Homo sapiens: one gene and its partners. The protein of the gene in region 4 interacts with the protein of the main gene of each other region in a pairwise test. Each region holds a gene or a part of one and is shown on either strand. Other genes may lie near its edges.

Region 1 (4,144 bases), on a different chromosome or scaffold from region 4:
GTGTGGTTGTGTTTAGATACATTTTTATTTACAAAATTCAATGGCAGGCTGGATTTACCCCTCAGGCTGTAATCGGCTGACCCTGTCCATATTCTGAACACACTCCTGTCTCGCAGGCTTCTTTACAAGCCTCTATGTAAAGCACAGGCTGGTGAGGGCCCCAGGAAGAGCAGCACCGCCCTCGGCACAGGCCCCTACTCCAAGTCCTGTGCAGGAGCAGGTCTTGCCCAGCGCAGCAGCTCTGCACCTCTGTGGCACCGCTCTGCCAAGAGGGAAGGTGCAGGCCCTGCAGCCCATCGCCTTGGATCTGAAGACCAGCCCTGTGGGGCTGCTAAGTCATGAAACTGGCCTCATGGAGATTTCATAAAGCCCCTACCAGCTTTCCTGCCCTTCAGAAATGCTTACATCTATATATTTATGTTATATCTTCATATATAAAGAAAATGGAAAAAGTCAAAATCAGTTTGCTATCATTTACAATGAAAGGAAGGAAGACTAAGGATGTGTTTATGTGTGTGTGGAGACAGGAAAAGAGACAGAACCAACACTAATTACTGCAAAACGAAAAAAGAGAAAGGAAGGAAGACAGGGAGGGAGGGGGCAAAAATCTCATTCCATGCTCCACACAGTTCTCTTAAGTCTACAGGCCGAGGTTGTAGGAGCCTAGACAATCTCAGCAGGTAAGAAGATTCTAGGCCCACTAGACTTACACTTTACACTGAATTGAAGAAAATCATAAAAAGGGGTTTTGCCACCTGGATGTACAGCAGAACATAATTAAATTTAATCTTCTTGGGACAGTGTTTTAATGGGATAAATCAGCTCCCATTTAACCTCATACATAGCGACACAAAGAAAGGCCTTTCATGGCGCACGAGGTGTATAAACAAAGGGAAACCATATCTTTCTGGGCAAAACTGCTTTTCTGGATTGTTTATTATGTTTAATCAGCATTGTGGAAAATGCAACAATATCTGTTCATGGACTTGAGAACCCCAGAGTGGGAACAGCAGGTGCGGATGTGGGGAGAAGAAAGGAGGAGGGTCTGGAGAGCGGCCATAGGGGAGGCAAGTGTGAGGAGCCAGGAGTGGGGGCCCTGGGCTGCCCTAGACAGGGACATGCGGGCACCCCGTGGGGTCTTTGGCAGCTCACAGGACAATGGCAGTGGAGGTCTGCTCCCTAGAGGGCGAAGGGGGCACTGAATTCTCCCCCAGTAGCCTCTTCTCTGATCCTTCCTCATTCTGGAAAAAAAAGAAAAAAGAAATCCTTAGGGGAAAAGGATGCAGGCAGAGTTAGTATCATAGAACTCAGAAAGCAGAAAGAGGAAAGGAGGAGGGAAAGGAAAAGGTGACAGGAAAAGCAGATCAGGCAAAAAAAAAACAAGGTGGCAGAGGAAGGGGAGTCAGACGAACACCTGGGACAGGGCAGAGGGGAGAGTGGGGAGATCAGAGCAGAGGAGGGCGCAGAGAGGCACAGGGCGGCGACAGTTGGCCCAGGACCATGGTGATGGCCACATTCCCCAGACAGCAAAGGGGAGAGCTGCATATGGAAAGAAGCTGAGGGGCACCAGGCCCAGCCTCAGGTTCGGGTGCCCCTGGCCCCGCACTCCTACCTGTCCCACACACTCACCACCCAGACTCACGCTGCCCAGAGGCCCCTCCCCGACAACTCACCAGGGGCTGGGAGCTCTGGCCACACAAGTTTCGAAGACCTACTCCCAAGGAAACCAAGGACACAATGACCTTCAAGACACAGACAGCCAGGAACAGGGCACGGATTGCTGTGAACAACTTCTGGAGATAAGGGAAGAACAAAGATAGTCAGGTGTCAGCTACTCCAATGCTGCCCACATCACCACCCTCTCCACCCACCCAGGCACTGACTCTATCCAGCTTGCTGCTCCCACCACAGCTGACTGTGTTTCCAGCCACAGCTTCCATCCCGTTGGCTTGTCTGCAGAGTGAACTTATCACTCCCTGTCAAGAAGTGGAGACTATTCCTTCAACCCGTAGAATCTGGAAGGGCCTAGAACTGCTTTGGCCACAGTGAAAGTGACACTATACAGTGACAGGGAAGCCCTTAGCTGGTCTGGCAGCTTCTACTTTCTGTCTCCTGAAATGCTTGCAACTAGGGTACTCCCCATTGGAATCCAGTTTCTGTGCTATGAGAAGCCCAAGCCAAGTGGAGAAGCCATTGCCGGCTCTTGCTGACAGCCCCCGCTGAGCTCCGGACCATGCAACTACATCATCTCAGACCTCCAGCCTCGGCGAGCACTTGGATAACTTCACCCCCATCTGACTGTAACTGCATGAGAAAACCCGTGAGTGAGAATGGCTCATCTGAATCCAGCCAACTCACAGCACCGTGAGAAATAATAAGTTGTCATTTTAAGCCACTACATTTTGGTGTGGTTTTTAATTCAGTAATGGAAAACTGTGATACCAACACACCAGAAAAGCCAGAAGGGTGACCCACTATCTCCTCTCTGAAATGTCTCCTCTTTGTTCCTCACCCTCCTTGATTCAGAGAATCTTCGTGTCATGAGGTCTGAAAAATGTCTGTAGCTTACATTAAAACCTCCTGAATGAAAGACCCAGCATGAAGTCCAAGCTCAAAGAGCCTACATCTCTGTCCTCCAGGGCCCCCAGCTCCCTGGGAAAAAAGAGCTGTGATGGGTCCCCGAAGACTGGACTCTTCCTGCTCACCCTCAGCATCTGCATGTAAGCTCTACACTCCTCCTTCTGCCATTGGTTCTCTTGACTTCGCCGCATCCATCTGTACCCAGTGGTAGGGAAGACAGGGTCTGAGCGATCACACACAGTGTCGATGTATAAAAAGGGTTCAGTTTGCCAGATGAAGCTATTCACGCAGAGGACAACAGCAGCCATAGCTGTAGCAAAGCCTGCCAGGGTGAGCAGGCTGGATATATAGCCCTGGAAGAGAAAGAGGGTCATGACACACGCTCCTTCAATCGGTGGAAGAGTCATGAGGTCCCCGCCTCAAATCCCTCTCCTCTTCCCCAGCCCTTGTCCAGGAAACCCTCTCCTCCCCTCCAAGAAAGACCCCAAGATATTGACAACCAAAGGGCAGAAGACAGATAATGGAGCAGAATTCAGGAGGGGGTCAGTGAACAAGGTGGAGAGAGGGTGTCCAAGACTCACAGCAAGTTTGCCCGGGTGCTTCTCATGGACAATGGCCCCAGCTCCTGCTGCGATCACCTGAAAAGAGACACCAGAAAAAGGCCTCCAGTTTACTCTTCTGAATTGGTCTATCATCACCCTCCCACCAGCAGTTCCCAGAATAGCCAATGTGAAGCAGGATCCCAGGGACAGACAAAGAACTCTGACACACAGACCAGGATTCCACCTATACCTGCCCCACCCCTCCCATCTGTCTTCAAGAGAAAAATGGAAGTGACAGGGTTTTAGCTACACCCCAGAGCAGCCTCCTCATGGCCAAAGGCCATTTGGCTCCAGAGACTTTGGTCGCTTCCCCAAAGCCCCAACCAAGATCCATAAGCGCCTTCTTGCCCATCACCACTTGCCTCCCTCCAGGCTCACAGCCTGTTCCTTACTCACCACAGACCCCGCCCAGAAGGCACAGCCTGAGGCACTCAGCACAGTCCAGGGCCCCAAGCTGAGACACACTCCAAGAACACAACTCACAACCCCCAGCAATATCTGAGTCACCTGCAAGACAGGATGAGAAACCAGACCCCTTCCCGTGAGTCCACATGCCCCGGCTGCCCTGGGACCAGCTGCCTGGCTCCTACCTAGGTGGCTCTCCTCTCCTTTTCCTCTGCCTTGACCTCTCTGCAGCTCTGATTCTGGAAGATTCTGTCCCCTTAAAATCCATGAAGCAGCACTGGCCTGGGTCTCCCCTCACCCTTCTCATAGGCTTGGCTATTTATCCTTCATCAATTTTTCCCAACTTCAACACTTTCTCATCCCACCTGAAGATTCCCACTTTTCCCCCCCCATTCTCCTTCAGAGGTCCCATTGTCCCATCCAAACCCCCAGCCTGACCTGAGCTTCTGGCCTATCCTTTCTCTTCAGATCCAAACACACACTCTTGAGGGCTCTGTGGCAGACACAAAGAAGTGCCGCTGAGACCTCCTTCAAGAAAGGGCTTGTTTGATTGCTGA
Region 2 (4,362 bases), on a different chromosome or scaffold from region 4:
TTTGCCTCTCAAGTGAAAGGTGAAATATGTCAAAGTTCTCCTGTTATCATATATGCAATATATACTCATAGGGCTAATTGGAAAGCAATTGAGGACCAGGAAGAATTACAGAAGGAATAAAGGCAATCTTCTGTTAATGTACTTCTTCGTCACGTATTGTTTTTCTGTTAAGGTGACCCAAATGATTGCTTAAGACTTGTCTCACTAATTTTCACTCTGTTCTGTGAGACAGGAAGTGAAAAAGTAGATCACTTTCTTCACTTTCTTTTTGTCCTAAAACTTTTGGTTTTATTTTATTTTAATTAATTTTTTATACTGACACATAATTGTGCTTATTATGGAGTACATAGTCATGTTGTGATGAGATGAGATGGAGATACATCTCCATCATCTCAAACATGTATCATTTCTTTGTGTTGGACATTTTTTTAACTTCCTCTTTATTGATTTTGTCCTGCACTCTGACTCAGGAATACATTCCCGTAGTCAAACTCTAGACTTTGTTATCACCACTAAATTCTCTCCTCCCATAATCTCAGTCTTAGGCATCCATATTTTGAGAAATCACCTTCTGTCTTTCCACCAACTTCTTCACTACCACAGCCTCAACAATCCATGTGGTTGGCACCTACAAACCATTCATTCCACGGCCTTTTCACTGTCCATGATCTCTCTCTTGTCTCTTTCTTACCCAGCTTAAAATTCAAGGCCAGTCATGATTATATGATCATCTCTTGGCATATACCCTCAGCTCAGTTGGCCCCCTCTCGTTTTGTCACTTTTGTTTGGTAAGACTTTGGTTAAATCCAACTTTCCACAGTAGAGCATGGCTGGAAAAAAATGCACGAACTTGCTCAGCATTCTCACTTGAGGTTCAGGGCCACAGAGTTGGTCCTTTCATGCTTCCAGATAATCACACTATTTTCTCTGATTCTTTCCTTCTCCACTTTCCTAGAGGACCATTCACAGTTGTTTCTCCTCTCTCATCACATGTTCAAGTCCTCCTCCCCCATCCTCACTTTCGTCAATGACCTGGCTTTGTATTTTGCTGAGAAAATGGAATAAATGAGAAGAAAGCTTCCATGTGATTCCACCATCATGTCTCTCTTCCTACCTGTACCTGAAGCCATATATGTGGTCTCTACTCTTGTTACTATTGATGAATTGTGTTCCTGTCTAAGAGCAACTCCTTCAGTTATGCGGTAGATTCAGATTACATCCCTTATCTACTGTATCATTCCAGGCAGCACATAATCCTGCTCTAATTTTGCTCCTCTTAAAAATCCCTATCTTTAGCACACTTCCTTCTCTGCTACTCTATTTCTTTGTTCTTCTTTTTGTCAAAACATATCCAAAAGACTTGTCTATTTCCAATTCCATTTTTTGGGCAGTACCTTGCTTTCCATAAGGCCATGGGAAGCATTCACATTGTGCTCCAGGGTATGACTCACTGAAAATACAAATGGTGTCCCCTGGGGTTGGCACCAGTCTCTTAAATCAGCTTTATTCAGGCATTGCCCTTATCGTTCTCCTTTTTTTGAGGTCTCCAGAATCTCTCTTGTGACCAAGCTAGTGTTTCTTTTCAGTGCTTCTCGTTGCTGTGATGCTCTTTTTTTCAGTGAGTCCTCTGACCTCGCCTTATTTAGAACATTCCCCTGGGCACTCTCTGCCCTTTTGCTTCATTACTTTTCACCATAGTATTTAATAAACATCTGACATATGCAGTGTTTGTGTGTGTATACACACACACACACACGCACACACACACACACATATGCTTGTTGATTTATTGTCTTTTCTTTCCTGTGAGAATATAAACTCTGTGAAGACAGGGAAGAATGTTACTTTTCTTCTTTATAGTGTTAAGAATTGTTGAGAATAATGACTAGCTTATAATAGGCATTTAAGATATATTTGTTGAAAAAAATGAATGTAGAGTCACTGCTGTATTCATTTTAAAAAGCTATTAGACTGATTTATGCAATTCCAAGGGGATTATCATTGTTGAGGCAAATTTAGTGGGACTTGACCCAAACAACAAATATTTTTCCAACAAAATGTCTTTCTTACAAATGTACTTTTAGAAAACCACATTTTAGGAATCTATACTCTTGGTTTACAGCTTTGTATTGTGTAAATGGGCAGTCTCTCTTTGATGGGTTTGCACACTTACCTGCCTCTTTCACCTGCCTCTCTAGATATGAATGCCACAATACGAAGGATTGACCAGTTAACCAACATCTTAGCCCCCATGGCTGTTGGCCAGATTATGACATTTGGCTCCCCAGTCATCGGCTGTGGCTTTATTTCGGGATGGAACTTGGTATCCATGTGCGTGGAGTACGTTCTGCTCTGGAAGGTTTACCAGAAAACCCCAGCTCTAGCTGTGAAAGCTGGTCTTAAAGAAGAGGAAACTGAATTGAAACAGCTGAATTTACACAAAGGTAAACTGAACACAATGATCTCTCCTTTTGTTCTCATGTTCAGACCTTAAATGTTGGTGAAGATCAAAACTATTTTGAATTTGTATCAGGTTTTATTACCAGTGGGGGCCAGATGAGGTTAAATATATCGCTTTGGTAGACGAGGCAAGAGCAGGCTTTTGAGGATCTAGGGAAAAACTCCGGGTTGAATCTGGTGGGGTTAGAATGGGTCCCCTAGCCCTCTTCCTTGATGTGAGCAGTAGTTATAGAGGTTCAATTTTACTTGAGAGATAGCTGGGCAAAGCTAAGTCATAGGACTGGGAAAAAATGTGGGGAAAAAAAGAGAATGAGAGAATCCCTTGGACTCTGTGAGGAGGGAGTTATGTAGTCATTTGTAGGACAGTGGAAGGGAGTGAGGACACAAAGATGGGTATTTCACTGGAGAAGAGGACGCTGGGCTTCTGGGTAAACAGAATCTTTTATCCAGCTCTGCAGGGACCCAGAAAATAATATGCTGGTTGTTTTTTGTTTTTTTGAGACAGAGTCTCGCTCTGTCGCCCAGGCTGGAGTGCAGTGGCGCGATCTTGGCTCACTGCAAGCTCTGCCTCCTGGGTTCACGCCATTCTCCTGCCTCAGCCTCCCAAGTAGCTGGGATTGCAGGCATCCACCACCACACCCGGCTAATTTTTTGTATTTTTAGTAGAGACGGGGTTTCACCATGTTAGCCAGGATGGTCTTGATCTCCTGACCTCGTGATCTGCCCGCCTCGGCCTCCCAAAGTGCTGGGATTACAGGTGTGAGCCACCGTGCCTGGCCAATACGCTGTGTTTTTTTAGACAATTTTAATATTTTATCTGGTGAGTTTTCCTGCTGTTTACTTTGGTGGGAGTATAATTTCTAAGAGCAAGAGAGAGAGAGAAAAAAAAGAGGGATAGATCAATAGTATTTTGTTTATTTAATAAAAATGACACTTGATGATTATTCCTTGGCTGGAATTCTTAGATTATTAGTAAAAGAAAATACATATTACAATGTCTAACCAAGGGTACCCATTGGGAAGGGGAATAGAAGGAAAAAAAGTACTACTAATAATTGGCTTTTATTTCTACATGTCCTCCCCAACAAAATAATGGTATCTTTTCTTAACAGATACTGAGCCAAAACCCCTGGAGGGAACTCATCTAATGGGTGTGAAAGACTCTAACATCCATGAGCTTGAACATGAGCAAGAGCCTACTTGTGCCTCCCAGATGGCTGAGCCCTTCCGTACCTTCCGAGATGGATGGGTCTCCTACTACAACCAGCCTGTGTTTCTGGCTGGCATGGGTCTTGCTTTCCTTTATATGACTGTCCTGGGCTTTGACTGCATCACCACAGGGTACGCCTACACTCAGGGACTGAGTGGTTCCATCCTCAGTATTTTGATGGGAGCATCAGCTATAACTGGAATAATGGGAACTGTAGCTTTTACTTGGCTACGTCGAAAATGTGGTTTGGTTCGGACAGGTCTGATCTCAGGATTGGCACAGCTTTCCTGTTTGATCTTGTGTGTGATCTCTGTATTCATGCCTGGAAGCCCCCTGGACTTGTCCGTTTCTCCTTTTGAAGATATCCGATCAAGGTTCATTCAAGGAGAGTCAATTACACCTACCAAGATACCTGAAATTACAACTGAAATATACATGTCTAATGGGTCTAATTCTGCTAATATTGTCCCGGAGACAAGTCCTGAATCTGTGCCCATAATCTCTGTCAGTCTGCTGTTTGCAGGCGTCATTGCTGCTAGAATCGGTAAGAAATCTCTTTTTATATATTAATGAACTAAAGTGTCTTTTTGTAATGTAGGTTCAGAGAATCCATTAATAAATGATCTGAAATGTTCCCTAAATGTTAATTTAAGCAAAATCCACTCTTACGAAATTTTTATTTTACATATTTA
Region 3 (3,673 bases), on a different chromosome or scaffold from region 4:
GCAGCCCTCACAGAGAATCCACTGGGAAATAGAAAGGAAAGAGGACATTCTATTCCAGTGAGTCACCAGGTCCCTGAGTCTCTGGCCTGCTCTCCAGCCCCTCCCCACTGCCTCTCCTGGCCCCCAGTCCTTGTCTTCCCCCAATTCCCACCTCAGCTCACAGGCACAGGCTGAAGGCCTCAGAGCCAGGCTTCCTTCCTCGCTGTGGATCCCACTAGCTGTTCACAGAGCATATTCCAACGAGCCTCCAGGCTTCGGCACGTGGGCATCTCTGTTATCCACCCCATTGCAGAGAAGAGGAAAGTGAGACCCCAGCATTCTCCCAAGGCCATCCAACACCCTGCACCCCAGCACCACAGCCTCCACTTTAAAGAACTCCACTCGCTGCCTCCCAGCCCTCCCACCACACACAGGCACCAGCTGGGGCAGGATGGCTGAAAACGCAAGGCTTGGAGAAGAAACCCTGATCCAATTACCAAGGAAACTGGATTCAAGGCAGCCTGTGGATGGGGCTTCCTCGAGTTTCAGAGCTCAGTCTGCCCTGGACATGGGCTGAAAAAAGTACAGGGGCAGAGCCCTGGGGAGCCAGGCTCGCAGCGGCTCCAACCTTCCTCTCCCCGAGGACTGTCCCGCGGAAGGCCAGAGCCCTGCTGGTGCACACAGGACCTGCTGTGGGCAGGGTTTTGTGCAAACCCTGAATCCTCCCTCAGAGCTCAGACAGAGCCCACCCAATTCTTCCCACTCCACAACCAGCCCCTAAGAACCAGACAGAAGCCGCCTGCTCCAGCCACACGCTTCCCATCAGAGAGGGAGGTCCCAGGGCAATGAGGACACAGGCCAGGCAGCTCCCTCCCTCCCACTATGCTGCAATCAAGAGCCTCTTCACAAAAGCTTCTTAGTGGTTTTTATTTTCTTGGACTAAGGCACCGATGAATTGACTGTGCAGCCTCACACTGCCTTCTCCAAACCAAAAGGACATTCTCAGGGCCTCTCCCAGTGCCCTGCCCGCCAGAGGCCTGCAGCAGCCTGATGAGGAGGTCAAGACGGGCACTTCACATCCACTTGTGTGCTGGCTCTGCCAAGACACGCTTGTCATTTCTGGGGCTCACTGGGAGTCACTGTCACAAGACGGGCTGTCCAGCCCCGAAAGAGCACCCTTGCTCTCCACTCCCCAAACCCTTCAGCACTGCAGACCCAGTGTTCCTCCATTCTCTGCTGCCATAGTACACTGGGGCATGCCATGCAAATGCAGCTGGAGCAAGCCCCAGTCTATTGTTCCCCTCGTTCACCCCAGAGATGCATCCTTCCACATGGAAACATGGGGTCCACTTGTCCTGGGAACAGATGGGAGGGCAGGGGCAGCTGCTGTCCACAGGCACCGGCGACAGCAGCCTCAGCGAGCGTGGCGGGGATGGTGGCGGTGGGGGTGGTGGTGGTGGTGGAGGTGGTGAGGGGTGTGGCGGGGGTGGTGGTGGTGGTGGAGGCCCACATTCGGCACATGAGATACGTGGCCAGGATGACGGTGATGGTGAAAGATTCCCAGGTGGCCCCGCCGCCGGAAGGGCCAAGGCTGGGCCCGGCGGACTCGGTTTCCCCCTGCAGCTGTACGGTTCCTCTCCACGTCACAGTCCTGCCGTCCGTGGAAAAGGCAGGTGGCCAGCAGCAGCAGCAGCAGCAGGACCGCCACAGCAGCACCTGTGATCCATCCCACGAGGGCTGTGCTCCCCAGGAGGCCCAGCATCTGGGAGCCGGACAGTCCCTCTCTGCCCAGCAGCTCCTCACTCCTTTCTCCCCTTCAGCAGCCTCCGCTCAGCCCTCTCAGTCACTGAACTTTGTTGTCTCTGCTGCGGGCTGGAGAGCAGCCAGGGAATGTGGGCGAAGCCTGTTTGGACTTGCAACTGCTGGCCAAGGGTGAGGCCAGGCCGCTGTTAACTCTGAGGAGGCCTGGCAGGGAGGCCAGGTGGAGACAGAGGAGCTGTCAGGCTGGATCTGGTTGAGGGAGGAGCCCTGAGTCTAGAGGAAAGAAACCCTCCTGCTGCCTGGCTCAGTGACCTTCCCTCTCCGCACTTCAGTCTCCTCTCGTAGAGACTGTGTAGAACAGAGATGAACAACACGGGCTTTGGAGCCACGCCACTCACTTGCTCTGAGATTGTGCACAAGTTACTTAACCTCTCTGTCCTGTTTCCTCTTCTGTAAAATGGCTGATAACGGTTCCTTCCTCAGTAGGGTGTTCCGAGGACTAAAGGAGTTGAGATGCGTAAAGCAGCAACACCAGCTCCCGTCATGTTTGCAACTGATATTACTGCAATGGACTCCATGGCTCAGGAGACACTGACATCTGAGAGTCTGTGATTCCCTGTCCTGCAGCCTGCAGAGCCCTCCGGGGCTGAGTCAGGCTCTGTCAGATGAGCCATCCCGAGCTCAATGAGCTTGAGAAGCTCAGGGAGGCACCACAGGCAGATTTTGCCATCCAGGGAGGTCCTCCATCCGGCCTGTTCTGGGAGGCAGGAGGGTCTGGGTGTCCTCCCAAGCTTGCTGGGAGGCAAGAAGGAGGCCACTGAGCTCAGAGAGGGCAGGCACAGCCCAGCCTCCTGGTTCCCAGTTCAACAGTCTCAACTGGCCATAAATGGCATGCTCCTTGCTCTGTCACACCCTCCCTGCCCAGCAGTGATGAGTGCCATTCCTGCCTAGTGGAGCATTTACAGAGCGGCAGGATCTGAGCAGTACTGACTGTCCCTCCAAGCCCACCCGCCAGGCCCAAATCCCCTCTGTTCCTCCTGGGAGGCACCGTCCCATCCTGCTGACAGACCTCAGCAACAGGTGCTCACTCTCTCTCTGGGCAACCCTTTCTGCTGTGGGCATGCTGGGCTGTTCTCCAAGCTCTTCCTCACATGCAGTGGGGCTCCCCAAAGCCCCAGCTCTGTGTCTGGCTCTGCAGGGTCCCTCCAGGCTGAGTCCCCAGCCCCTCCCTCCAGGCTCATCTCCCTACCGCCTGGAGGAATGTCTGCAGACACCGCAAGGCTGGTTCTCTGAGTTCTGGCAGCACCTCCACCCTGTGATGTTGGGCAAACCCCTTGCCCTGATCCAGCCTGTCTCCTCTGCAGAACTCCCGGAGCAAGAGGTGACCTCCAGGGACCCTTCCCCCTCTGACCTCAGTCTGAGGTGAGTTCTCTTAGGGAGGCCTCAAACCCTTAATGAAAACCCTCACCAGATGAAAAGGCTAAACATTCCCTTCAACCAAACTGGGCTCAGGGGGCAGCAGGTCTAATGAATCCTGGCACTTCTTTGGCCCTTGGGGGAGCTACTTGAACTTTTAATGATGCTGGAGTAAGAACTCCTCCTGCAGACTCCTGGGGCCCTGGGAGCCCGGCTGCCTTCCCTAGGGAAGTTAAGGAGGGAAGTCTGTTGTGAGGAGGAGGAGGAGGAAGGCAAACAGGGGATTTTCGTCCTCAGAACTTCTCCAGGAAGACTCCCACCCCACACCAGCCGCTGGCGGCGGGGCAGGACCTTACAACTATGAACTTGAAGAACTTCAGTCAGCTCAAACGGCCCCTTGGAATCACCCAGACTCAGCCTTCACTGACAGATGGAGAAACTGAAGCCAGAGAAGGGAAACACTTGCCTAAGTTCTCCCAGCCTCGTGCGCTAATCTATACAGCAGGTACTCAACAGA
Region 4 (4,362 bases):
TTTTGGAAGAGTAATATTTTAAATATGAAATTTTAAGGTTAAGCAGTTACATTGGTAATTAGTATTAACTAGTAAATTTCTTAAGTCTTAAAACTCTGTTTTGACCATGTAATTTCATTTTTAAAAATTTTTATTTTTAGTTCTGGGGTACATGTGCAGGATGTGCAGGTTTGTCACATAGGGAAATGTGTGCCATTGTGGTTTGCTGTACCTATCAACCCATCACCTAGGTAACGATGTAATTTCTTAATTCTCAGTCAATGGCTCCCTGCTGTAAATATACAACCTCTTGGCCTCTAATTCAAAGCCTTCCAAAGTCATATCTCAACTTAATTTTTTAGCATTTCTTCCCACATTTTCCTACCCAAACCCCTTCCTTTACCCTCAAAGAGTATATAATCTATAAACATTGACTCAAATGGTACTTCTTCAACTTTCAAAACTGCTTCAGGCACACAGTAGAACACCACAGTAGTGCCCCATGTAGATGGACAAAATCTTTTAGGTGATGAGAGGGAATATTCATCATCTGAAACTCAGAGCAAGAAAATCAAATCCATGATGTGGAAAAACTTCACTGGAGACATGTTCCACATAGGGAAGCAATGCTACTTAAAAGAATAATAAGGCATGGCTAGAATAAATTTGGGGAATCTGGGATAGAGGTCTGAGACTCCTCCTACCCCTCAGCAGGGCTATTTAAATGGTTAAATGGAAAACAATCAGAAGAAACAGGACAGGAAGGGTGGACTCCCCATACTGCTGGCTTGGTAAGTCTTTTAGCTACTTGTGACTCAGAATGTGGCTGAGGACTATTAGCATGGGCTTGGGAACAGCATCACCTGGGAGCTGGTTAGAAATACAGAATTTTGGGCCCACCCAGATCTGCTGGATCAGAATCTGAATTTTAGCAAGATCCCCAGGAGATTTATATGCAACTTAGCATTTGGGAAGCAGTGCTTTAATTTCACAGAGCCTCGGTTTCTTCATCCATTGTAAATTATGGATAATGAAATCTACTTTAAAAGGCTCTCGTGATCCTAAATGAAATATAACAAATGAGGATGCCCAGTAAAGTGACTAGCACACAGTAATCAGTGGTGAACGTGTTTTGGAAGATCCCATATAGTTGGGTAAGTATGACTGCAACCCACTGGGACTTTAGTTCTGCTTTTGATGCAGGACAGGCAAGCACCAAAATTGGGGCTTAGCCTGGGAGGGTTCTTGGCTTTGCCCAGGAAAGAATTCAAGGGCAAGCTGGTGTTGTTAAATAGCCATTTTTATTGAAGCTGCAATGTATAGCAGCAGCACCTCTGTTCCTTGTGGAGCAGGGATATTCCATAGGCAGTGTGCCTGGAATAGCAGCTCAGAGGAGTCTGTTCTGTACTCATATTTATTTTTAATTATATGCAAATTAATTTAAATTATAAATTTGATTATATGCAACCCACGTTTAATTATATGCAAATTAAGGGGTGGCTTATGCAGAAATTTCTAGGAAAAGGGTGGTAACTTCTGGGTTGTAGAGTCATTGCCATTAAAAGGGGCTGGAGATTGCCATGTTGCCATGGCAATAGTAAACCGACATGGTGCACTGGTGGTCATGTCTTATGGAAAGCTGCTCCTGCCTGGGACCTGTTTTAGCTAGTCCTCAGTTTGGTCTGGTGTCCAAGCCCCGCCTCCAGAGTCAAGTCCCTCCTCCTAGCTCACTTTGATCTAGTTCCATCACAACACATAAAAGTAGGGTGCTGGCTCTTAAGAGCTAATGATCAGACTTACAGAAAATTTGCAAGCTAATTGTTAGCATAACCATTATTAAAAATTAAATTATATACATTTACAACTAAATTATATTGAAAGCAAGTGTAATATGCAAAACATCACTTTCCAATGATTTTACTATATTTGGCCATCTGTGCTTGTGAGGTTATTTACATCTACTGTATCTGCATGGTGGAAATGCTGTGTAATGGTGCACACTTCTAGCCAACTCTATGTCCTGTGATGTCATTTTTGTAGGCTGAAGTGAACCACAGTGGGTATATTTACACCAGAGCAATCAATAAACACTACAAACTGGGGCTTTCCCTCCCAGAGAACTAGTTGTTAAGCATTCACAAGCATGACACAGTAAATATAGCACTTATGGCCACATGCAGTGGCTCATGCCTATAATCCCAGCACTTTGGGAGGTCAAGGAGGGCAGATCACCTAAGGTCAGTAGTTCGAGATCAACCTGGCCAACATGGTGAAACCCTGTCTCTACTAAAAATACAAAAATTAGCTGGGCATGGTGGTAGGCGCCTGTAATCCCAGCTACTCAGGAGGCTGAGGCAGGAGAATTGCTTGAACCCAGGAGGCAGAGGCTGCAGTGAGCCAAGATTGCACCACTGCACTCTAGCCTGGGCGATAGAGTGAGACTCTGTCTCAAAAAATAAAAAAAATAAAAAATATAGTACTTATAATTGCTGCTTGTTAAAATTAAAAAAACCCTGGGATTGGTGAGGAATTGCTTTTTTGTCTCAGGTGACACTCAAAATCATTGATGAGGAAGTTATGGGTTATACTTGGGTCCACTCTTAGTCTTATTTACAATCTTTTCATAATGCCTTACTGTTTTTTTAAAAAATTATTCATGGAAGACAATGTGTTTTATTTAAAGTTGGCTTAATCTGTGAATACAATGGGGATCCATGACATTCTTGTCCTATTGTATAAAATCTGGAAATTGTAGGCATTAACTATACAAAAAACAAATTGCTTTCTCATTTCTTTAGGCTAGGCTTCTCACTCCTGCATGCAGGCACAGAACAGAAGAAGGGCAATGACCGGCCAAGCTTCAGATGGTGTAAGAAAAAGAAGTCGAGGCATGGAGACAGCCTTTGGGGGAAGAATAATGAGTACTTACCTTGACAGAGGGGATTTCAACAATAGGAACAAAATAATGAGATCATCTAAGAAGGTGGATAATTGACCAGGGCTTATAACACAGGAATGCACTGTCAGTAGGGATTTATGACCAATCTCCTACTTGTTGAGTGGGATGTGAATAATTAACTAATTTCTTAACCCACTGAGCAAGGGTTAAAGATTGAGTCACCTGTTTACTCACAGCCTGTCAGGGAGTGAGTGTTAGCACCTCTACCTGGTGGCGGAGGAGGGAGTGCAGAGAGAGTGAATGCCTGCAGGGCCAGAGCTGCCCAGGGGTGCAAGGTGGACTCCGGACCTCCCCTTGTTAATGTGTCTCTCCTGATTTAATGCGTCATCTTTAAAGAATCATCCTCAATTCTGCAGCAATAAAAATAAAAACCTTCCCTTTCACCTTGCAAGCCTCCCGCAGAAAGCCCCAGGAAGAGCCTTGTCAGGGCAGCTGAGGAGACAATTAATAACCATGGGTGATGGATGAGGTGCACGTGGCCTGTGCCTCCACTTTTATCCCTCTTCCCTTCTGCTGCCAGTTGGGCCCCAGGCCCCTGTGAAGTGCATATGCCTTGGGGGTGTGATATATTAAGCCATCATTATTCATCCTTAACACATTTGCAAGTTTTAATTCAGCCTAAAATAATATAATCAGAGAAAATGTTCTACTTGCATTTAACATTATACTCACAGGTTTGGATTATATCATAGATGTAGTTGGGGATGGCATGGGAGGGCAACAAGCATAAAATGCATTGACTTTACCATGTATTTCAGTTATATATTTATATTTTACATGTAAATTCATAATTATATATTTATATCTAGATAAAATTATATGTTTGTGTATTATATATAATAATCTATAGTTATGTATCACTATCTCACTAGGTGATTGCTGATTAAGGGGAATACTATTACCCACAATGTTGAACACAGTGCCTGGCCATGGAAAACACTCAATAAACGGTGTTATGAATATTAAATAATTAGCCCTGACGGCCAAGTTATCTAAAGTGCCTATCAACTATGAAGCAAATTTTTGGTTCCTTTTCCTTTTGAGGACTTCTAAAAATGTCTCATTGGTCATCAAGAGAGCAAAGCTGCATGTTGTAGGAAACTTGCAGCACAGTGAGTGTGGGATTCCAAAATGCTGGATAAGTAAGAGACATAGCAATAGCTTGATCCATACAAACACTGACTACTAGCTTGCTGAAGACAAGACTCATCAGAGAGGCCTCTCGTCATCTCTCCAGGGACAATGATATTGCAGAGGTGGACATTTACCCCTCGTGTTGTAGGCAGACCCTGTTTCCCTTTCTTTAAGTTATGGCTTCCACATATATGGTCATATATGGCCCCAGGAACCCAATTCAGGACTCTTGCAATCCCACGGGTATTAGGGAGATTCTACATTGGGCCTGGTGCTGGGGGCTCCCAGCA
Region 5 (4,362 bases), on a different chromosome or scaffold from region 4:
AAACACCTTATTTCAAATTCTCATTCCTGATACTTCAGAGTATACCCAATAGAAATGATCAGGCTGGCGAGGTGGTTCATGCCTGTAATCCCAGCACTTTGGGAGGCTGAGGCAGGCGGATCACCTGAGGTCAGGAGTTCGAGAACAGCCTGGCTAACATGGTGAAACCCGTTTCTACTAAAAATACAAAAAATTAGCCGGGCATGGTGGCATGTGCCTGAAATCCTAGCTACTTGGGAGGCTGAGGCAGGAGAATCGCTTGAACCCGGGAGGCAGAGGTTGCAATGAGCCAAGATCACGCCACTGCACTTCAGCTTGGGCAACAAGAGCGAAACTCTGACTCAAAAAAGAAAAGAAATCATCAAAAAAGGCCAGTGGTGACTCATGCCTATAATCCCAGCACTTTGGGAGGTTGAGGCAGGTGGGTCACCTGAGGTCTGGAGTTCGAGACCAGCCTGGCCAACATGGTAAAACCCTGTCTCTACTAAAAATACAAAAAATTAGCCAGGCGTGGTGGCATGTACCTATAATCCCAGCTACTTGGGAGGCTGAGGCAGGCAGGAGAAATGCTTGAACCGAGGAGGCAGAGGTTGCAGTGAGCCGAGGTCATGCCACTGCACTCCAGCCTGGGTGACAGAGTAAGACTCCGTCTCAAAAAAAGAAAAGAAAAAAATGCACTGGGAGTTGGCTGATACAAGTGTTTCCATAACAGATGCACACAATACTGCATTAACATAAAACAGATAGGTATCTAATTATGTGGATGCCTTTATATTCACACTGACTTCTCTGCTGATTAAATTTACTAAGATAAAGAATTAAAATTACCATCACAGGTCTGAAACATTTGTATTTGAAATTATTAACATTCATATTTGCCTACCACCCATTTTTATTTGGTCAGAAGATAATTCTTATTACTTGAGTTAACTTAGGAATTAATTTATGTTGGGTTAATACATGTAGTTAATTCATGTAGGGACTAAACACAGACCTTCCAATTAACAAAGAGTTACATCAAATAATTTAAAAATACATGTTTACCTGCTGTGACCATTTTACTGCTTTCTCTGTTAGGTATTTGTATACAACTGGTCTCCCAACTAAATAGGAAAGCATATAACAGAAAGAGGCACCAAGTCCAGAACACTGGAAAACAAAAGAAGCCATAAGCGTTTTGTATTTTTCCGTCTTACTCACATTGATTTATTCACCTGAGTAAAAAGCTCAATTAATTTACTTCTTTCAGAGGTGGGGAGGGTACTCTGCATGACATCTCTTGTGCAGAGATGATCTAGTACTTTCTCAGACCAAAATGTACCTCAAATGAGATCAGCTAAAACAAACTGGCACTTGTGATTACACCTAGTGACTATATCCAAATAATTAATGCTAGGCTTTAGCCTAAGAATAAAATTTCAGGAGCCAATTTCCACCTCCCCCCGACCCTACCCCCGACCCCCCCAGTTCCTAAGCTTGAAAACACCACCTCTGGCTCTGGGACTTAACTCATTGTGCTCACCAACACTCCTTGGACTGTCGCAGTTACAAAATCCAATAGGAAAGAAAAGCTAAAACATAGCTTATAAATGCAACTAAGTCTATAATTGGTCTGTTCTGGGGGAAAAACAAATTATAACACCTCCTTGTGGAGGGACTTTAACATTAACTCCTCTTCAATTAATGAGTTTATGCTTACATAGACTAGTAGGGTTAAAGTATCATCATCATCCTCATCATTCTATTGTTTTTTCAGTCTCCCAATTTTATTTTTTCATACTTACCAAACAAACAAGAAATAAGGCTAGTGGAAAGGGATAAAGAAACCCTGAGAGTATACTGAGAAATATAGAGCCTGGAATAGCAAATGTTTGCAAGCTGGTAACTTTTAAGTTAAGGATTAGAATATAATTAAGTAGAATTTTAAAAGACAAATGTAACATTTCAGGAAAAAAGTATAAATACAAAAATTATCATACAATGAGATTATATCCAAAGGTCTAGCCTCTAAGTTGACCATTTACTAAACAGTATCATAAATACTAGTAAGTGTGTGCTACTAAAAGGTTTCCAAGACAAAAAACCGTATGTTCTAGATAGAGAGGAACCGGGCACTTTGGGGGAGGAACAAAAGAAAAAAGAAAAGGTCTTCCGTAATCTTTTAGTGCTTCTCTAATACATTTTATTTTACTCCCAAATGTTTTCAGGGAAATCATGTACATACAATTATTTCTAATTTAACTATGAAGGTTTACCTAAATTCACTACTCATTTTAAAGGAATAGGAACTACAAGAGAATAAAAGAAAATAAGAAAAATAAGAATAGAAATTACAAAATATAGTAAAAGTCACAAATCTTATTTGAGAAGGGGTCTTGCTTTGTCACCCAGGCTGGAACGCAGTGGCGCACTCATGGCTCACTGCAGCCTCAAATGCCCAAGCTCAAGCAATTCTCCCACTTCAGCCTTGCAAGTAGTTGGGATCACGGACGTGTGTCACCACACCAATTTTTATTATTTGTAGAGATGAGGTCTGGCTGAGTTGCCCAGGCTAGTCTTGAACTCCTGGGCTCAAACGATCCTCCCACAATGGACTCCCAAAGTGTTGAGGTTACAGATATGAGCGACTACACCCGGGCCACAAATCTTGTTTTTAAAATAGATTTTTTTTTTTTTTTACTTTCCTGTCGTTCCCAGTTTGGATCTGAACCTTTTTCCCCTCTAATATGATTTACTCACAAGTCAAAGTGAATTCCCTCAACATCTCTCCATCTATCCTCACTCATTAACTATTCCTTTTTCTCTAGTTCCCATTTTACTCATGTTCTCATTTCAATCTCCTCCTCCTTCCTCCTGGGTTTTTTCACCTTCAACTCTGTTCTCTTTCACAGGATGCCTCCTCTACAAAACTACTCAGTTGTCTATAACTTAAAAAACAACCTCAACCAGGGTATCCTATCCAGCTACCGCTCATCTTCACTTCCTCAGAGGAGATTCTCTCCTCGTTCCCTGTGACCTGCTTTACTATTCCACTATGCTATTGAAACTTCCTCACAGCCAATAATAACTTTTTCTCAATAGTCACCTTTCAGTGATCCCTGCATAGGATTAGACTTCATCCTGCATGAAACATGGCTTCAGTGAACTGTACTTTTTCTTCTACATTACAGGTAATTTCTTCTCTAGATTTTTCTCTTTGCCCTCAACTCTTGAAATTTCTCTAACATTCTGTTGGCCACACAATCCCTTTTCTTTGATAAATTTGGCAATTTCCATGGCTTCAAGTATCAACCACATATAGTACTAAAAACTCGAAATTCTCTTTGGTTCATCAGCCTCAAATTTTCCACCTGTCTCCTACATGTCTCTGTCAAAAACAAAACACACACACACACACACACACAAACACACACACTTTTTGGGTTAAGATTGTACTATATGGACCGGGTGGGGTGGCTCATGCCTGTAATCCCAGCACTTAGGGAGTCTGAGGCAGGCGGATCACAAAGTCAGGAGATCGAGACCATCCTGGCCAACATGGTGAAACCGTCTCTACTAAAATACAAAAAACTAGCCGGGCGTGGTGGTGGGCACCTGTAGTCCCAGCTACTCGGGAAGCCAAGGCAGGGGAATCGCTTGAACCCAGGAAGCAGGAGATTGCAGTGAGCCGAGATCTCGCCACTGCAAGCCAGCCTGGCAACAGAGCAAGACTCCATCTCAAAAACAAAACAAAACAAAACATCATATTATGGATAGTTTCACACATATGTAAATGTAGAAATACTCAATGTAAATGACAAGTTGATGGGTACAGCAAACCAACGTGGCACACATATACGTATGTAACAAACCTGCACGCTGTGCACATGTACCCCAGAACTTAAAGTATAATAATAAAAAAAAAAAAGAAAGAAAAGAAAGCAAGACTCCAAAGGATGAAAGGAGATAAATGGAAATTTTCCCTTGAGGAAATTGAGAGAAGCAGAAATAAATGAGGACAAGTTCCCAGGAAGTGTTTTGTTGTTTTTGTTGTTTAACGCAACTGTATTTTTTCCTTTCCCAAAATTTGGTGCAATTCCTACTTCTCTGAAAAGGAAACCTAAAATTACAGCTGAAATTGGGGAAAAAAAAACAAAGTAGAGAAACTAGTGTTATGATGCCCTATATTAACATATTTCAGGCTGGGCACCGTGGCTCCCGCCTGTAATCCCAATACTTTAGGCAGCTGAGGGTGGATCACTTGAGACTAGGAGTTGAAGAACAGCCTGGCCAACACGATGAAACCCTGTCTTTAATAAAAATACAAAAATTGGCCAGTCACAGTGGCTCATGCCTGTAATGCCAGGTACTCAGGAGGCTGGG
Region 6 (4,362 bases), on a different chromosome or scaffold from region 4:
TCCACCCGGGCCTTGGCCAGGCACAGGTAGGCCTGCAGGTGGGGCCGGGTCACCGCCAGCCGCAGCAGGCACAGCACCACCAGCAACCAGAGGCGCCCAGAGTCGAAGGCAGAATCGGACAGCCTGTGCGGAGAGGGCCGGGGGCAAGGGACTAAGAAGGTCGCCCCCGACCCCCCAGGATCTTCCCCAGGCTCCTCCCTGAATCTCAGAGGCTAGGGCACCCAGGGGAGCCCCAGCTACCTCCTAGCCCCACCCAATACGCACAGGGAGAAACGCGTCTCCCCAAACGGCGGCTGGTGCAGGAAGTCCCGTGCAATGGGCTTTGTCCAGAGCCACAGGATGAACAGGGGAGACAGGAAGCTGGTGTGCAGGAGGAACCTGGGGGGTGAGGGCAGGAGGGAGTGAGGCCTGGGTACCCCCTCTCCTCGAGTCTCTCCCTTAAGCTCCCTAGTCCCCCCACCCACCAAGCGACCCACTTAACTGCAGCATGGGTCTGTCCTCCGACATGGTCAGTGCGTCCCGGTGGGTCTGGGCCAGCCGCAGGCCTGGGAAGGTGAGGAAGGCACCCAGCACAGAGCCCACCACTGCCAGTCCCACGCGGATAGCCAGCTTGGCCACAGGAAGCCTAGGAGAACACCAGGTCACGAGCCTGCCTGGGGGACCCTGGGAGGGTCCCAGCCTGCCCTTGCCTCCCTCCCCCATTCCCAGGACTCACGCCCAGTCCCAGCCCTGCTTCTTCAGAAGTGGCTCTAAGTTCTGGGTCATGCTGGCCAGACCTGGGGACGATAAGAAGAGGACCGAGTAGAGTGAATTCCTAGGGTCTCTAAGGCCACTCTGTTCCCTAACCCCCCATCCCTCAGGCATCCGTTTGCTTCCCAAGTAGGAATGAACAAGGGTCTGCCAGGCCCTGAGCCAGGCACAAGGACAATTTTGTGCTCTAGTTACACAGTACTTTTTACAAGAAACAAGATTGGAGTGGTGGTTCACGCCTGTAATCCCAGCACTTTGGGAGGCTGAGGCAGGCGGATCATCTGAGATCAGGAGTTTCAGACCAGCCTGGCCAATGCAGTGAAACCCCCGTCTCTACTAAAAATACAAAAATTAGCCAGGTGTGGTGGCAGGTGCCTGTAATCCCAGCTACTTGAGAGGCTGAGGCAGGAGAATCGCTTGAACATGGGGAGCGGAGGTTGCAGTGAGCTGAGACCGCACCATTGCACTCCAGCCTTGGGGACAAGAGTGAAACTCAGTCTCAAAGAAAACGAAACAGAATGCACCAGGCAGACACTCCTGATTGGGCTGGGAACATTCAGGGGTATCTGTTGAGCCTGAGCTCCCTAGGTTATAGAAGGAATCTAGAGGGGGATGAAGGACTCCTGCAGGAGAAAACCAAAGTCCTCCTGGAGGAAGGAATCCTCAATTCAGGACCCAAGATTTTTCAAAAATTAAGAGCAGGGCTGGGTGCAGTGGCTTGCACCTGTAAGTCTCAGCACTTTGGGAGGCCAAGGCGGGTGGATCGTTTGAGCTCACAAGTTTGAGACCAGCCTGGGCAACATGGCAAAACCCCCATCTCTACAAAAAATACAAAACCAGGGGTGGTGGTGCACGCCTATAGTCCCAGCTACTGTGAAGGCTGAGGTGGGAAGGATGGGTTGAGCCCAGGATGTGGAAGTTGCAGTGAGCTGAGATCATGCCACTGCACTCCAGCACAGAGCAAGACCTTGTCAAAAAAAAAAAAAAAAAGGAGCAAATTCATATGAGCTCACAGGCAAAATCACCAAATGCATAAGGAAACAAATCACCATAAAGGAGAGTTAACAGAAAAACAACAGTCAAGTTTAGGCCTCAAAGACTTCAGAAATTGGTGCTGTCAATTATGTGTCAAATGACTAAGGAAATGAAAGCTGTAATCACAGAACAAGTGACATGAGAATTCCTTCAGATGACTGGGTAGAGTTGCAAAGGAACCAAATTAAACTCTTCCAAAGGAAAACTGTAAGTATTGAAATAATAGGTTGTTAAACAGCACATTAGGAACAGCCAAAGGAGGAAGTGATGAACTGGAAGACAGATCTGAAGAAATCACTCAGATTCCAACTCAGAAAAACAAGTAGGTGAGAAATATGAAGAGAGGCTAAGAGATAAGGAAGACAGAACAGAGAGCCCAACGCAAATCAAATCAGAGCCCCAGAGGGAGGGAAGAGAAGGAATGAAGAATAAAAGGAATTACTGGAAGAGAATGGTTGAGAAGTTTGCAGAATGAAAGACAGACACAAAGTATATCAAACCATGTAAATAAAAAGAAATCCATACCTAGACATAATGGAGTGAAACTGCAGAACACCAAAAACAAAAAAATTACAAAGCAGCCAGGGAGTTAAGACAGATCACCTACAAAGGAACAACAATTAGGCTGACAGCCAATGTCAACTGCAACAACAGAAAAGGAACAAATAGAAAGCAAAAAAGTAAGATGGTAGAAACAAAGTCAAATATGTCAGTAATCACAATAAATGTAAGTAGACTAAACTTTAAAGTTAAATGACAAAGACTGTCAGACTACATTGAAAATATCCAGCTACATGTTTTTTAAAGGATGACATACCTTGACATAAAGTCACTGGAAGACTGAAAGTAAAGGGATGTTAAAAAGATACAGCAAATACTAATCAAAAGAAAGCAAGCTAGAAAGGCTATACTACTACCAGCCAAACTAGACTAAGAAGTAGTATTAGAATAGGCCAGGCGCGGTGGCTCACACCTGTAATCTCAGCACTTTGGGAGGCCAAGACGGGCAGATCACAAAGTCAGGAGTTCGAGACGAGCCTGGCCAACATGGTGAAACCCTGGCTCTACTAAAAATCCAAAAAATAGCTGGGCATGGTGGCGGGTAATACCAGCTACTTGGGAGGCTGAGGCAGGAGAATCGCTTGAACCCAGGAGGTGGAGGTTGCAGTGAGCCGAGATTGCGCCACTGCACTCCAGCCTGGCCAACGAGAGCAAAACTCTGTCTCAAAAAAAAAAAAAGTAGTATTAGAAGACAGAAGGGTTCCATACATCATGATAAAATGGCTGATTCACCAGGAAAATGTAACAGTTCTAAATCTGTGAATAGAACTAATCTGTGAATTGTGAATAGGCTGCAAAATATATAAAGAAAACACTGACAGAATTGATAGGGAAATTGAGAGCTCTCTTGTCCCAGAGGGAGATTAACTTCTGCTGACTGATAAGTCACAGACAAAAGGTTAGGCAAGATGGAGATTTGAATTTATTAAACTCATAGAGCCAGGGAATATGTCCTTCAATTAGAACATGTGAAAAAAGGCAAAACAACAAAAACAGAATATGTCCTTCAAGAAAACAAGGAATAGTCACAAAATGTGATCACATTCCAGGCCATAGGGCAAATCTTACCAAATTTTAAAGAAATTATTTCAAATAGACCATCTGTGCAATTGAGCTAGAAATAAATATGTATTTTTTAAAGATCTATGTTTGAAAAATTTAAAAATATTTAATAATCCATAGGTCAAAGCATAGCAAGACCCCATCTCTACAGAAATCAGAAGGGAAATGTTAAAACACCCCAAACAGAATAATAAAAAATATCAGTCAAAACTTGGGTAAACTGCCAGGTGTGATGGCTCACACCTGTAATCCCAGCACTTTGAGAGGCCGAGGTGGGTGGATCACCTGAGGTTAGGAGTTTGAGACCAGCCTGGCCAACATGGTAAAACCCCGTCTCTACTAAAAATACAAAAATTAGCCAGGCGTGGTGGCGTGCACCTGTAATCCCAGCTACTCAGGAGGCTGAGGCAGAAGAATTGCTTGAACCCAGGAGGCAGAGGTTGTAGTGAGCTGAGATTGCACAGTTGCACTCCAGCCTGGGTGACAAGAGCAAAACTCCATCTCAAAACAAAAACAAAAACAAAAAAAAACTTAGGTGAACAAAAGTGAGACCTGGTAAAATATATATAGCATTAAATGCTATATATGCTATAAAATTAGAAAAGATTGAAAATTTATGAGCCAAGTAGCTAACTGAGAAATTGGAAACAAGAAAAGGAGGTACGCCAGTACTGTTCTCAAATCCAGAGGTCCTAGCCACACCAAAGGGGAAGGATCAGACAGAACAAAAGAAAACCAAAAAGAATCTGCAATTCAATAAAAATATAATTGTTTAGCAAGGTTAGTCCGTGGAGACACTCAAATTTGACCCCTATATGATAACACAAAAATTAATGTCACTGTCCATCAGCAACAGTGAGTAGTTTAGGAGCTTATATGAAATGTAAAAGTTGAAATATTTTATTTATTGATTTTTAAGATGGAGTCTTGCTCTTGTCGCCCAGGCTAGAGTGC
Region 7 (3,383 bases), on a different chromosome or scaffold from region 4:
GCGAGACTCCGTCTCGGAAAAAAAAAAAAAAAAAGGTCACTGGAAGACTGGGTGTGGTGGCTTATGCCTGTAATCCCAGCATTTTGGGAGGCTAAGGCAGGAGGATCACTTGAGGCCAGGAGTTTGAGACCAGCCTAACAGCAAGACCCTGCCTCTTAAAAAAAATAATAAAAAAATAAGCTGGGTGTAGTGGCTCATGCTTGTAGTTCCAGCTATTCAGGAGGCTGAGGTGAGAGGATCATTTGAGCCCAGGAGTTGGAGGCTGCAGTGATCGTGCCACTGCACTCCAGCCTTGGTGACAGAGCAAGAGACCCTGTCTCAAAGAAAAAGACAGATAAGTCCTTGGGAGTCTCAGACGGAGGACATACATAGAGAATGAACAAGAAGCAATAACCAAAGAGATAATGGCTGAAAATTTTCCATAAAGACTTCCACAGACTTCAACTCCCCAGATTGAAGGAACAAACTGAAGTCAGAGTAGGGTAAATAAAAATAAATATATATCTGGATATATCCCATTGAAACCACAGAATATAAAAAGCAAATCTTATAAATAACTGGAGAGAAAAGTCAGATTCACGGTGTTCTGTCAAAGTGTTCATGTAGACTAAGGGTGGGGAAACTTTCTGTAAAGGGCTGGAGAATAATTATTTTCAGCTTTGAGGCTTTGGTCTCTGTTGCAGCTGCTCACGCAACTCTGCTGTTGAAGTTTGTAGTGCAAAGTCAAGTCAACAAATGAGTGTGGCTATATCAGAAATTTTAATAAATAACAGTAAAACTTCATTTATTGACATGGAAATTTGAATTTTATATAATTTTATGTCATAAAATCTTATTATTCTTTGACTTTTCTCCAACCATTACAAAATATAAAAACCACTCTGTGGACTATACCTTGCTGATTCCTAACGCAGACTTCTAATGATGGGAATCACCACTTCTGAAATTGCTTTCTGTTAAGACTGTAGAATGAAGTCGGGCGAGGTGGCTCAGGGGTTGGAGACCAGCCTGGCCAACATAGTGAAACCCTGTCTCTACTAAAAATACAAAGATTAGCTGGGCATGGTGGCATGTGCCTGTAGTCGCAGCTACTGAGAAGGCTGAGGCATGAGAATCGCTTAAACCGGGAGGCAGAGGATGCAGTGAGCCGAGATCGGGCCACTGCACTCCAGCCTGGGAGACAGTGAGACTCGTCTCAAAAAAAAAACAAAAAAAAAAAAAACAAGGAGTAAAAAGTTGTTAGCTGCGATTCTGTGTTAATTGCCTGTTTGTTCATATTCAATGGTTTTTGTCATTTTTCCTTTTTCCTATGTTTGTTCTGATTATATTTATTGAAATGTAATTTTATGTCTAATTAATCTGATAAACTGTGGACTTGTATTCTGTATTTTTTTTTTTTTTGGAGACAGAGTCTCGCTCTGTCGCTCAGGCTGGAGTGTAGTGGCGTGATCTCGGCTCACTGCAACCTCTGCCTCCCGGGTTCAAGCGATTCTCCTGCCTCAGCCTCCTGAGTAGCTGGGATTACAGGTGCGCACCACCATGCCCGGTAATTTTTTTGTATTTTTAATAGAAATGGGATTTCACCCTGTTGGCCAGGCTGGTCTCGAACTCCTGACCTCATGATTCACCTGCCTCGGCCTCCCAAAGTGCTGGGATTGCAGGCATGAGCCACCACGCCCAGCCTCTGTATGTTTTTTATTTCATTTTTCTAGTTTTTAAAATTTTTATGTTATTTATTTATTTATTTTTTAAATAGGTCTCAGTCTGTCTTCCAGGCTGGAGTGCAGTGGTGCAATCATGACTCCACTGCAGCCTCCCAGGCTCCGTGATCCTCCCACTCCAGCCTCGCAAGTGGGTGGGACTACAGGCGCCCCACCATGCCTGGCTAAGTTTTTGTATTTTTTGTAGAGATGGGGTTTTCCCATGTTTCCCAGGTTGGTCTCGAACTCCTGGGCTCAAGTGATCCTCCCACCGTGGCCTCTCAAAGTGCTGGGATTACAGGCATGAGGCACGGCACCCGGCTAGTTCTTCTTATGAAAGTACTGGACCGTGATGGATTAGAAATGAAAACTGGTCCTTTACCATAGCTAGTTGGGGGACCACTGGTTTAGGAGTTCCTGCATCCAATGGGTGCCCCCTAAGTGCCTTGAATGGGGGATGAGGGTGGGAAGTCTGCGGGGCCTGGAAAGGTGGGAGCGAGAGCAAGAGTCTGGGTGTCCATTCCTCTAACTCAGAATCCTGAAGGCCCCGCTGTGTTGGGTGCTGCAGACAGTGGTTTGTGGGACCCGTGTTTTGGTGGGGGAGATAGACAGTACGGGCAGGTGCACCAACAGGGCCTCCCAACCCTTGCTCACTCAGCCAGCCTCTTGGTTGGCCGGTAGGGGAGACCAGCTCAGTGCCGGTTTCCTTCTCCCTCCCCGACAGTGTCATGGGAAGAGCCCTGGGCTACGTTCCTAATTCTACCTACCACCTGCTGGCTGTCCTTGGGTGAGTCAGTCCTTATCTGTAAAATGGGACGGAGGTAGTGAAGATTACAAGATATAACCCGTGTTCAGTGCTTAGCGCAGGGCCTAGTATATTTTCTTTTCTTTTTTTTTTTTTAAATAGAGATGGGTTCTCGCCATGTTGTCCAGGTTGGTCGCGAACTCCTGGGCTCAAGCGATCCTCCCACCTTGGCCTCTCAAAGTGCTAGGATTACAGGCTTGAGCCACCGTGCCCGGCCATCCTGGGGTCTTTCAACAAATTGATAACTGGTAGCTACTATGATCTCAGATTTCAGGTTTCTCAAAGATTCTGTTTCTTGTTTCGTAAGATTCTGAAATGCTGATGTTCCAAAATTCTGAGATGGTTTGTTTCTAACGTTCTGCATTTCTAAGTCTTTGACCACTGAGGGTGTCTGTCAGGCGCGGCTTCCTATGCCCTCTGCCCCCAGGTTCTCCCAACCTCTGGGACTGGGAAGGAGGGCAGTGGGTGGAGGGGGCTGGGCCATTGCCTTGACATGGCCCACATTCAGGGCTGGCTGTGGCAGCCCAGGGCCCCAGAGCCAGGCTGGAACTAGGATACCAGCCTCCAGGTCCCAGGCCTGCGTCATCTCTGCGTGCCCTCGGCCAGGGCCACCAGACAGAGACGGGCTGGTTGAGTCATCCAAGGGCTGGGGGTGGGGCAGGCTGTTCCGGCCGGCTCCTGGCTGGCAAGGCAGGAGTCCTACGCCCAGCTCTGCCCCTAACATGCCCCGTGCCCTTGGGCAAGCCTCAGCATCAGGGCTGCCACGCGTTCGGTGGTGCTCGAAGCCCTTCAGCGTCAGGGTCAGTCCTTGGGAGGGGGGCTGTGGTCAGGCTGGTGGGCTGGGCTAGCAGTGGCAGGACAGGAGGAGAGCAATTGCC

The links.
Region 1: the proteins of SLC22A2 (region 4) and TMEM176B interact in a protein complementation assay, tested with the Homo sapiens proteins (one large-scale study listed by BioGRID).
Region 2: the proteins of SLC22A2 (region 4) and SLC40A1 interact in a protein complementation assay, tested with the Homo sapiens proteins (one large-scale study listed by BioGRID).
Region 3: the proteins of SLC22A2 (region 4) and HRCT1 interact in a protein complementation assay, tested with the Homo sapiens proteins (one large-scale study listed by BioGRID).
Region 5: the proteins of SLC22A2 (region 4) and TMEM41B interact in a protein complementation assay, tested with the Homo sapiens proteins (one large-scale study listed by BioGRID).
Region 6: the proteins of SLC22A2 (region 4) and TMEM161A interact in a protein complementation assay, tested with the Homo sapiens proteins (one large-scale study listed by BioGRID).
Region 7: the proteins of SLC22A2 (region 4) and TMEM134 interact in a protein complementation assay, tested with the Homo sapiens proteins (one large-scale study listed by BioGRID).

What each region holds. Positions count from the first base shown.
Region 1 is NC_000007.14:150,790,383-150,794,526, forward strand, and holds the end of TMEM176B (transmembrane protein 176B), read right to left. Parts: intron 3,690-4,144; coding exon 3,579-3,689; intron 3,219-3,578; coding exon 3,162-3,218; intron 2,934-3,161; coding exon 2,706-2,933; intron 1,794-2,705; coding exon 1,674-1,793; intron 1,242-1,673; coding exon 1,149-1,241; 3' UTR 919-1,148; downstream 1-918. UniProt on the Homo sapiens protein: May play a role in the process of maturation of dendritic cells. Required for the development of cerebellar granule cells.
Region 2 is NC_000002.12:189,563,436-189,567,797, reverse strand, and holds part of SLC40A1 (ferroportin), read left to right. Parts: intron 1-2,198; coding exon 2,199-2,444; intron 2,445-3,572; coding exon 3,573-4,214; intron 4,215-4,362. UniProt on the Homo sapiens protein: Transports Fe(2+) from the inside of a cell to the outside of the cell, playing a key role for maintaining systemic iron homeostasis.
Region 3 is NC_000009.12:35,904,356-35,908,028, reverse strand, and holds HRCT1 (histidine-rich carboxyl terminus protein 1), read right to left. Parts: upstream 1,828-3,673; 5' UTR 1,742-1,827; coding exon 1,394-1,741; 3' UTR 893-1,393; downstream 1-892.
Region 4 is NC_000006.12:160,251,849-160,256,210, forward strand, and holds part of SLC22A2 (solute carrier family 22 member 2), read right to left. Parts: intron 1-4,362. UniProt on the Homo sapiens protein: Electrogenic voltage-dependent transporter that mediates the transport of a variety of organic cations such as endogenous bioactive amines, cationic drugs and xenobiotics. Functions as a Na(+)-independent, bidirectional uniporter.
Region 5 is NC_000011.10:9,286,658-9,291,019, forward strand, and holds part of TMEM41B (transmembrane protein 41B), read right to left. Parts: intron 1,886-4,362; coding exon of another isoform or gene 1,879-1,885; coding exon 1,785-1,878; intron 1,150-1,784; coding exon 1,045-1,149; intron 1-1,044. UniProt on the Homo sapiens protein: Phospholipid scramblase involved in lipid homeostasis and membrane dynamics processes. Has phospholipid scramblase activity toward cholesterol and phosphatidylserine, as well as phosphatidylethanolamine and phosphatidylcholine.
Region 6 is NC_000019.10:19,121,044-19,125,405, forward strand, and holds part of TMEM161A (transmembrane protein 161A isoform 1 precursor), read right to left. Parts: intron 777-4,362; coding exon 716-776; intron 626-715; coding exon 482-625; intron 379-481; coding exon 265-378; intron 124-264; coding exon 1-123. UniProt on the Homo sapiens protein: May play a role in protection against oxidative stress. Overexpression leads to reduced levels of oxidant-induced DNA damage and apoptosis.
Region 7 is NC_000011.10:67,460,970-67,464,352, forward strand, and holds the end of TMEM134 (transmembrane protein 134), read right to left. Parts: 3' UTR 741-3,383; downstream 1-740.